Homo sapiens: one gene and its partner. The protein of the gene in region 2 purifies or fractionates together with the protein of the main gene of each other region. This does not show direct contact. Each region holds a gene or a part of one and is shown on either strand. Other genes may lie near its edges.

Region 1 (5,313 bases), on a different chromosome or scaffold from region 2:
TCACGCCTGTAATCTCAGCACTTTGGGAGGCTGAGGGAGGCGGATCACAAGGTCAGGAGATCGAGACCATCCTGGCTAACACAGTGACACCCCGTCTCTACTAAATATACAAAAAATTAGCCAGGTGTGTGGTGGCGGGCGCCTGTAGTCCTAGCTACTCGGGAAGCTGAGGCAGGAGAAGGGCGTGAACCCGGAAGGTGGAGCTTGCAGTGAGCCAAGATCGCGCCACTGCACTCCAGCCTGGGTGACAGAGGGAGACTTCATCTCAAAAAATAATAAATAAATAAATTTCTTAGGATCGGAAGGTGATTAGTGAGTAAAGACGGGCAACACAGTATCTATAACTAAGCTCTTTTTAGCATTTAAATTACCAGCTGATTTGTAGAAAGAGATTCTGCAAATGAGAGCTATTTCCCCCAATAGCTATTACATATTATAAGCCAAGTATGATACTAGTGCTATTTCCCAAATATTTCCAACTCCGTGCCTTCCAAGTCCACACATGTAGGATCACACTTGATTCCTTGTGTGGTGTGACTCATTTTGGCCAATGAACCCTAAGCAGAAGTGACATGAAATAATGTGTCATTCCTGTGCTGGAATTTAACTGTATTCAACTGTATTTAAATTTTTTTAAATTTAAATACTGTTAAATAACTTTATTTAACAGTATTTAAATTTATCTGTATGTGCTGGATTTAAACTGTACGTGCTGGAATTTAACTGCCTCCAACAGTTCTTTTTCCCTTTGCCAAGACAGCCATCAATACTCCTATCACGGCTGCTCCTTTGGTTGGAGTAAGAATGATGCAGAGCCTCTAGAAAACCCATGCTCTTTTTGACCACTTTGAGGTTATTGGTTACTACAGCATAACCTAGCTTATTCTGTCTGATAGTGCTTGAAGATTCACCACCTGAAAATCTATGTTTCAAAAGAAACAGACTAGTCTGAAATCCCTCTTTTAAAAACATTTAAATAAAACTGAATGATAAAATGTACAAAGGCTGTTCTTCCGCAGAAGATGCTATTATTCTTCTGCCATTATTAAAGAATTATCTGTCAACTTGGAATACTGGATGCTAGTCCCAGTCCCACTAACACACAGTGGCTCCAAGATACTGAGCATGACCTTTTAGTCCATTTCCTCATCTAAAAAAAAAAAAAGAGACAAATCAAATGCTGCTTAAATTGTGAAGTTTAAACAAGGTAACAACCTCTATGAAATGTAAAGACATTGTTTATGTACTTTGCTCTGAGTACTGCATTCCTGCTGGGAGGGAAAAGGCAAAGGCAACTTACACAAAGAAGAGTGTCTTGGAAGGCAATTCTTGTGAAGAGGACTTCACTCCTGGATCAATAGATTCTTCAATACGATGCACCACTGTCATCAAGCTTTCTGAACCCAGGTACTAAGCCAAAAGTTTAGTCTCTAACGAGAGACCAGGATGATTCCTGCCTTTTTTTCTTTTTGGTAAGGCAAACTGGAAAGCAGATAGCTAGTAAAACAGTTACATAAGAACTATCTTCGATAGTTTGATATCAACCCTAGATTATCTCAGGCATTTAACCAGTAAAACAGACTGCCCATAAATTGCTAAGAGGAGCCCACAATGGGCTGGCTAAAGAGGAAAACCAAACTAACTGCTCTCTTCCTCTATCCCACCTCCCCTAACCAGCTCCCATGTTTAACTTTTCATTAAAGCCACTTCTGAAGAAGCAACTCTCTGAAAGTTTAAGCACAACTCTTGTAGTATTTCAATCCTAGCCCACTAAGCTCTTAATGTATGGTTTCTTTAGACAAATTACAACATCAAAGCCATTCCTCACCCATAACTGGGGTACTATCTGACTTAATTGTGAGGTTCAAGTGACAGGATTATGCTGTGTCTATTCCAGCATTACAGAGTGAAGTGCCACTTGGTTGAACTTAAATCCTCTAACAAGGGATTGCAGTGCCTGCCCTCCCTACCAGGATCTGGTTTCCATACATACAGTCATTCCCAAATTAGAGCTACTGCAATCCCTACATCCATTCATTGACTTATGCCATTCTTTCCAACTATAATGGTTTCCCAACTCTCACCTGCCTACCAATTTATTTAAAAATCCACTCAACATGCCCCTCACCACCCCAGGCATTGAACAACTCTAAACTAAGTAACTCTCATCTGCCCTGTATTTACAATTATTCCTGAATAATTCTCCACAGGGGCCAACAGTGTTTTCTTATAGTAGAGAAGAAAAACCTGTTAAATGAACACAGAACACATAGTTCATCATTCAGGAAACCCACATATATTAACCACTGACCCAGAAGCATAACTTACATGCTATAAACGGTAACTTACTCTGAAAAGCTAGAACTGGAAAAAATTTAAACAAAAGCTTAGTAATATTTCAAGATCCATTCTAGAATAATGATTCATCCTTGTCCTCAAGTGGCTTAGAGTTGGAAGACAGGCAAAGTCATGTAATATTATTTCAATCAAACTAAGGTCTATAATGGATACACAAAGCTGAAGATCACGCAGCCAAAAGGCTGGTGGTGAAAGGCCCACTAATATCTGAAGGGTCAGTCAGAATATGCAAAACAGACCTATTTCTAGCATATGTACGATAGAATGTGATATTCTAAGGGCTCAAGTGTCTGACCAAAAAAGAGAGTTGGAATGAAAGCACCATCTACTATGGTTAGATCTACACCCCACAGATTACTCTTTCACAGGCCAATTCCACCACCAGGAATGGAGTCCAGACTATAAAAGTAAGCTATGGGCAACTATGGAAGACTAACTGCTCATTCACTGGACTGAAGCGGTGTTTTCCTTTCTTTCTTTTCTTTCCTTTTTTTTTTTTTTTTTTTTTTTGAGGTAGGGTCTCATTCTGTCGCCCAGGCTAGAGTGCAGTGGTGAAATCTCAGCTCCACCTCCCAGGTTCAAGCGATTCTCATGCAACATCCACCTCCCAGGTTCGAGCGATTGTCATGTCTCAGCCTCCCAAGTAGCTGGAATTACAAGTGCCCACCACCACGCCTGGCTAATTTTTTGTATTTTCAGTAGACACAGGGTTTCGCTATGTTGGCCAGGCTGGTCTTGAACTCCTGGCCTCAAGTGATCCGCCCACCTCGGTCTCCCAAAGTGCTGGGATTACAGGCATGAGCCACTGTGCCTGGCCGAACCTCTGCTTTTAACCCCAATGGATTTAAGTAGCATTTACAAGAGGTAGTCTCAAACTGACACGTTTTACTCCAGGATAACCTTCCCCAGTCCCTTGAGGTTCCCCTACACTGGTGAGTAAACAAGCTGTACCATGGTGCCATAAAGAAATGGCTTTCTACCAGAGGGAACTAAAATTAGAGAGAAAAAGTTACAAGTGCTAGCAAGGATGTGGAATATTTGGACTTCTTATATACTGCTGGTGGAAGAATACGCTGGTACAACTTTTGAAAACTGGCCATATCTACTAGAGCAGAATAGATACTCTTATGAAGTGAACTGTGTCCACCTAAAATTTTTAAGTTGAAATTCTAATCCCCAATATATCAGAATGTGACTTATTTGCAGACAGGGCCTTTAAAGAAGTAACTGAGGTTAAGTGAGGTCATAAGGGTGGGCCTCAATCCAATACGACTGGTGTCCTAAAAGAAAAGGAGAATAGGACACAGCCAATACAGAGGAAAGATCCTGTGAAGATACAGGGAAGAGAAGACAGTCATTTACAAACCAAGGAGAGGCTTCAGAAGAAACTAATCCTCCCGACAGCTTGACCTCAGATTTCTAACCTTCAGAATTGAGAAAATAAATTTCTGTTTAAGCCACTCTATCTGTGATACTTGTTACGGCAGCCCTAGCAAATGAATACAGACACATACCCTAAAACTCAGTCTTTTTACTTAAATACATTATGATATATCACATAATACTACTGAGCAATGGAAACTCCAGTTACAACTGTACACAACAACACAAAGTCTCACAAACAACACTGAGTCAAAGAAACCAGATACGCAAGAATACACAGTGTATGATTCCATTTACACAAAATCCAAATCAGGCAAAATTAGTCTACAGTTCTAGAAATCAGAAGACTCACTACGCAAGCATCAGGGCATCGATGATAATGACTTAAAGGAGACTAAGAGGGCCTCTGGGTTTATAAAAATTCTCTAAGCCGTCCACTTATTTGTGCACTTTTCTGTATATATGTATGTTTACTAAAATACAGAAATGATAAATTACTTGGAAATACAGGCAACAATGTACTTATCCAGTGTTACCATGGCAAATAAACCTTACTCTGGAGCTGGATGCATCAGGTTCCTCACTCGTTACCAACAAACATTTGAAAAATACAGCTATTCCTATGATCCCCAGCTTCTCATCATTCAGTGTCTACTAGGAGAAGTATCACAGGTCACATCACCCAAGAGTATCTGGTCTCCTCCACAGTTAAATTCTCACATCATTTTTGGGGAGAGTTCAATTTCTTTTTTCTTGAGACAGGGTCTTGCTCTGCCACCCAGGCTGGAGTGCAGTGCCACGAACACAAACCACTGCAGCCTTAAACTCCTGGAATCAAGTGATCCTCCCGTCTCAGCCTCCCACCATCTGGAACCACAAGTGTACCACCACACCCACCTAATTTTTTCTTTTCTTTGTAGAGATGGAGTCTTACTTTGTTGCTGAAGGTGGTCTTGAACTCCTGGGCTCAAGCAATCCTCCTGCCTTACCCTCCCAAAGTGCTGGGATTACTCCTCCCAAAGTACTGACCACCATGCCTGGCCAAGAGTTCAATCTCATTAAAGGAAGGTATGAAAGTATACATTCAAAGGAAGAAAATAACCAGTTAACACTTTGGTCTTCCTCGGGGTAGTGAATCACAAATTTTCCTTCTTTATATTTCTGAATTTTCCTAGCTTTTTTTTTTTAACTGAATAGTTTAATAATCAGCAAAAAAGACGTATCATTTTAAATAAAAGGTAGTGGGCCAGGCGTGGTGGTTCACGCCTGTAATCCCAGCACCTTGGGAGGCCAAGGCGGGCGGATCACAGGGTCAAGGGATTGAGACCATCCTGGCCAACATGGTGAAACCCCATCTATACTAAAAATACAAAAATTAGCTGGGCATGGTGACGTGCACCTGTAGCCCCAGCTACTCAGGAGGCTGAGGCAGGAGAATTGCTTGAACCCGAGAGGCGGAGGTTGCAGTGAGCCGAGATCATGCTACTGCACTCCAGCCTGGCGACAGAGCTTGACTCTGTCTCAGAGAGAGAAAAAAAAAAAAGGTAGTGGAAGAAAGAGACACTTTTTTTT
Region 2 (3,978 bases):
TCTGCCAACAGCTTGTTTTGAATCAAAAAGGCTTTGAAGGCCAGGCATGGTGGCTCATGCCTGTAATCCCAGCACTTTGGGAAGCTGAGGTGGGCAGAGCACTTGCGCCCAGGAGTTCGAGACTAGCCTGGACAACATGGCAAAACCCCATCTCTATCAAAAAATACAAAAATTAGCCAGGCATGGTGGCGTGCGCCTGTAGTCCCAGCTACTTGGGAGGATCACCTGATTCTGGAAGGTCAAGGGTGCAGTGAGCTGTGAGTGTGCCACTGCGCGAGACCCTGTGAAAAAAGAAAAAGGCTCTGAGCATGTTCTAGAGCCTCCTGCTATTGGCTAGACAGATTTCCATCTCATGCTCCTTTCTCATGGTGTGTTGTGGGGCTGGCAGCCACTCCTACTTCACAGACCTTGCTAGTGTGTAACAAAGTTGGCAGGCACCAACAACCTCTGCTACCCAAACCCCAAGGCTCTGCTGGGAGTCTGGACAGTTGGGCTCGCTCATTCTACACTAGCCCACTTCCAGGAGACGGCTCTGAACACTGGGGTGGAGAAACATTGAGGATCCTTGGTTGGTTTGGTGCAGCAGTTAAAATGGGCGAGTGGGGAGCTGGCTCCAAGACAGAGTAGCTGTGTACCTTTAACTGCTCTATGGCTCAGTTTCCTTGTCTGCAAAATGGGCAAAACAATAACACCTAACTCAGAATTGTGAAGGTTATCTGTTTGGGAAAGTCACACATTCTACAACTACATTCTACAACTCCCCTTGTCTCCAGCCAGGGCTGGCCCCCATGTATTCTTTTCAGGAATTGGGAGAGGTGGCGTCAATACCCATCACTCAGGGCCTGGCACTCCCAGCCTTAGGGTCCTGACATAGACTGCTCAGCCCATTGTACCCAAGCTGTAGTCTTGGTCCTGCTCTAGTTCATTCTACTCATTAGCTCTTATTTAATGTTACTACATTCCCACCCTCACTTCCCTGTCTCTCCACTTTGTGACATTTCCATCATTGCTGGCCACATCTGATTCACATCACTGCCTAAACGTACATGGTATGGCGCTGAAGTGCCAACTTCAGAAACCTTGTTTCTGGGCTGTAGAACACTGATTTAGGGAGAACACCCAAACCTCCTAAGCCTATACTAGTGCCAAAGGAAGTGAAACCTCTTTAGGCCAGTCTCCCTCTTACCATCTCCCTCACTGCCATACACTGAAAAGGGAAAGATCCTTAGGACTGAGCAAGACTAAGATTACGAGCTTCTACCATACTGTTTAATTTGTATAAGACACACATATTAAATGCCTATTGTATACATGACATTCTATGCTGGACACTGTGGGGATCCCCAATCTGTTCCTTCAAGGGACTCATGATTAATGGGGGGTGGGGAGGAGGGACAGAATTAACCTAAGGAAAAGGCAAATCAGTTGTCATGAAGACAGGCCAAAGCAGAGGAAGCACCAGAACGGACTTCCCCCAAATGAGAGAAACGTAGGCTTCCCAGCAGGTGAGCTACCAAGACCAAGCTACCCAAAGGAGCCCTGCTCCCTTCACTCTGCTTCCATCTCATGCACCTCAATTAGCAGGTACCCACTAACAGCTTCAGCAGGCACATGGGAGGCAGTCTTTGAACTTCCAGAGATAAATGTCACTAGCCCAGAGGGCTTTAGAGCCTTACCTTCCCAGATCTACAATAGGCAGCAGCAAACCTTGTTGCCTCTCGGACGCACAGGATATCCATTCCATCCACCTGGTAATAAACAGGGGAGGGGCGAAGCATGAATCCAACTGCCCCAAACCATTTTACTTTCACATGACCTGCTCCTGTATGAGAATGAAACTCTCCAATGTTTCTAAGATCGTCAAGGGTCTGCACAAGGACATACCCTTGGCCTTGGCCTTGGCCCCGGCCCCACCACAGGTGTCCTTACTCTCAGCCCAGGAATGAAATCGCCTCTCTTGTAGTAATCAGTGCTGGCTGCCGCTCTCTCAACAGACGTTCCCATTCCATAGCGATTATTCTCACAGATGAAAATACAAGGTAATTTCCACAAAGCTGCCATGTTGTAAGCTTCGAATATCTGGCCCTGGAAGTAGTTACGAAAAGGGGTTTCATTTGGCTTCTTTCTCCAGGCTTCATCATCTCTAACAGCTGCTGCTCTGCCTGGCACAGAAAGCTTTCATAAAGCACAGAAAGCCTCCTCTTCTAAAACCGAGCTTTGGGTGGTGAGGGAAAGCGGGGTGGGTGGTGGAGGAGAAGTAGCAGGCATCATACTCTTGCAACTAAGGAAGGTGACAAACCAACTACTACTTGTTTCTTTGGGGCCATGCTAGCAGTAAGGAACACACTGGAAAAAAGATCAATATGAAATCTATCAGGCCCACTGGATAGCCAGAGTGAACCAGCACCTAAGAATCAGCCTCTAGAACAGGGCTTCACAGAGTGCTGGCCACAGACTGGGGATTACTCGGTAACAAGAGAAGCATAGAAACTGAGTTAGGACTCAGACGCTATTATCCGAATTTGACACTGCCAGCCCGGACATCCAAGAGAATGGGTCTGTATTGTTTTGCAATAGGTTGTGGGGAGGTCCTTTACCACAGGGCCTTTGCCAAGCACTGATGTAGAGCAAAGGTGAGCTCCTTCACAGGAATGTGCCCCCGTAAGTCTCTTGTGAAACAACGCTAAGAGGTCAATCTCTAATCTGGCCATAAGTCAACCAAATTTGAGCTAGCCATAGGACTTGCTATTTCACCTAATAAGCAATATGCTACTTCTTTAGAAATTCAACTGTAAATATTAAAGACTTTGAAAATAAGACTGTTTTTGGGAAGTTAAGAGACATAATTACCTGGTTAGCAGCACCATCGCCATATAAAGTCAGGCAGACCTCATCTTTTCCATTATACTTACAGGCTAGAGCAATCCCAGCGCCCAGGGGCACCTAACATTAAGGACAACCGAGAAAGGAACCACAGAAATCCATGAGGGGAGATACTAATTAATGCCCTGCATTTTCACTCCTGGCCAGAATCTGACACAGAAATTACACTGCTGCTACAAACTCTCCTTCCAACCCTATCTCTCTGTTTATCCCACCTCCGATATTTTCAATAAAGCACTAAAGTAATATATAAATACTATGTTCTATTTTAACCAGTAAGCACTAACATTTCTGCATTCAAGAGTTAAAAAATAAAACCTGGCCGGGCGTGGTGGCTCACGCCTGTAATCCCAGCACTTTGGGCAGATCACGAGGTCCACAGATCGAGACCATCCTGGACAAGATGGTGAAACCCCGTCTCTACTAAAAATACAAAAAATGGTTGGGCATGGTGGCACGTAACTATATTCCCAGCTACTCGGGAGGCTGAGGCAGGAGAATTGCTTGAACCCGGGGGTGGAGGTTGCAGTGAGCTGAGATTACACCACTGCTCCAGCCTGGGCGGCTGAGCAAGACTCCATTTCAAAAGGAAAAATAAAACCTAGGTTTAAAAAAAAACAACACATAATAGAATCTTAATATATTAGAAAGGAAAAGAAACAGTCCGGATATAATTTTGTGCTGTTAATTCTTCATCATTCACTAACTGATGAGAACAAGGACCCCAAAATGAAGTTGACAAGATAAAGCAATTAATGTACTGAAATATAAATAGGAAGGGGAAGGTATGGCTCCACTGCTAGAGGTTCCTGCTTACTTATAAAACAGCAGACACCTAAAAGGAAACATTATAAATCACCATCCAAATCTACTCATCTCTCAAACGGTAGGATATGAAGCACTAGGTCTTTAAAAGCAAACCAAGCCCCCAAAATAGTCACGCGTCACTTAACAACAGGGATATATTCTCAGAATTGCATCACTAGGCGATTTTGTCATGTGAACACCATACTGTAATGCACGAACCTAGATGGTACAGCCCACTGCACACCTAGGCTGTATAGTAGAGCCTACTGCTCCTAGGCTACAACCCTG

Evidence for each region. The genes of interacting proteins can lie anywhere in the genome.
Region 1: the proteins of PDHA1 (region 2) and RAB7A fractionate together in Homo sapiens (co-fractionation; 3 studies listed by BioGRID, with this or other methods). This does not show direct contact.

What each region holds. Positions count from the first base shown.
Region 1 is NC_000003.12:128,732,010-128,737,322, reverse strand, and holds part of RAB7A (ras-related protein Rab-7a), read right to left. Parts: intron 1-5,313.
Region 2 is NC_000023.11:19,353,456-19,357,433, reverse strand, and holds part of PDHA1 (pyruvate dehydrogenase E1 component subunit alpha, somatic form, mitochondrial isoform 1 precursor), read right to left. Parts: intron 2,944-3,978; coding exon 2,851-2,943; intron 2,086-2,850; coding exon 1,930-2,085; intron 1,749-1,929; coding exon 1,677-1,748; intron 1-1,676. UniProt on the Homo sapiens protein: The pyruvate dehydrogenase complex catalyzes the overall conversion of pyruvate to acetyl-CoA and CO(2), and thereby links the glycolytic pathway to the tricarboxylic cycle.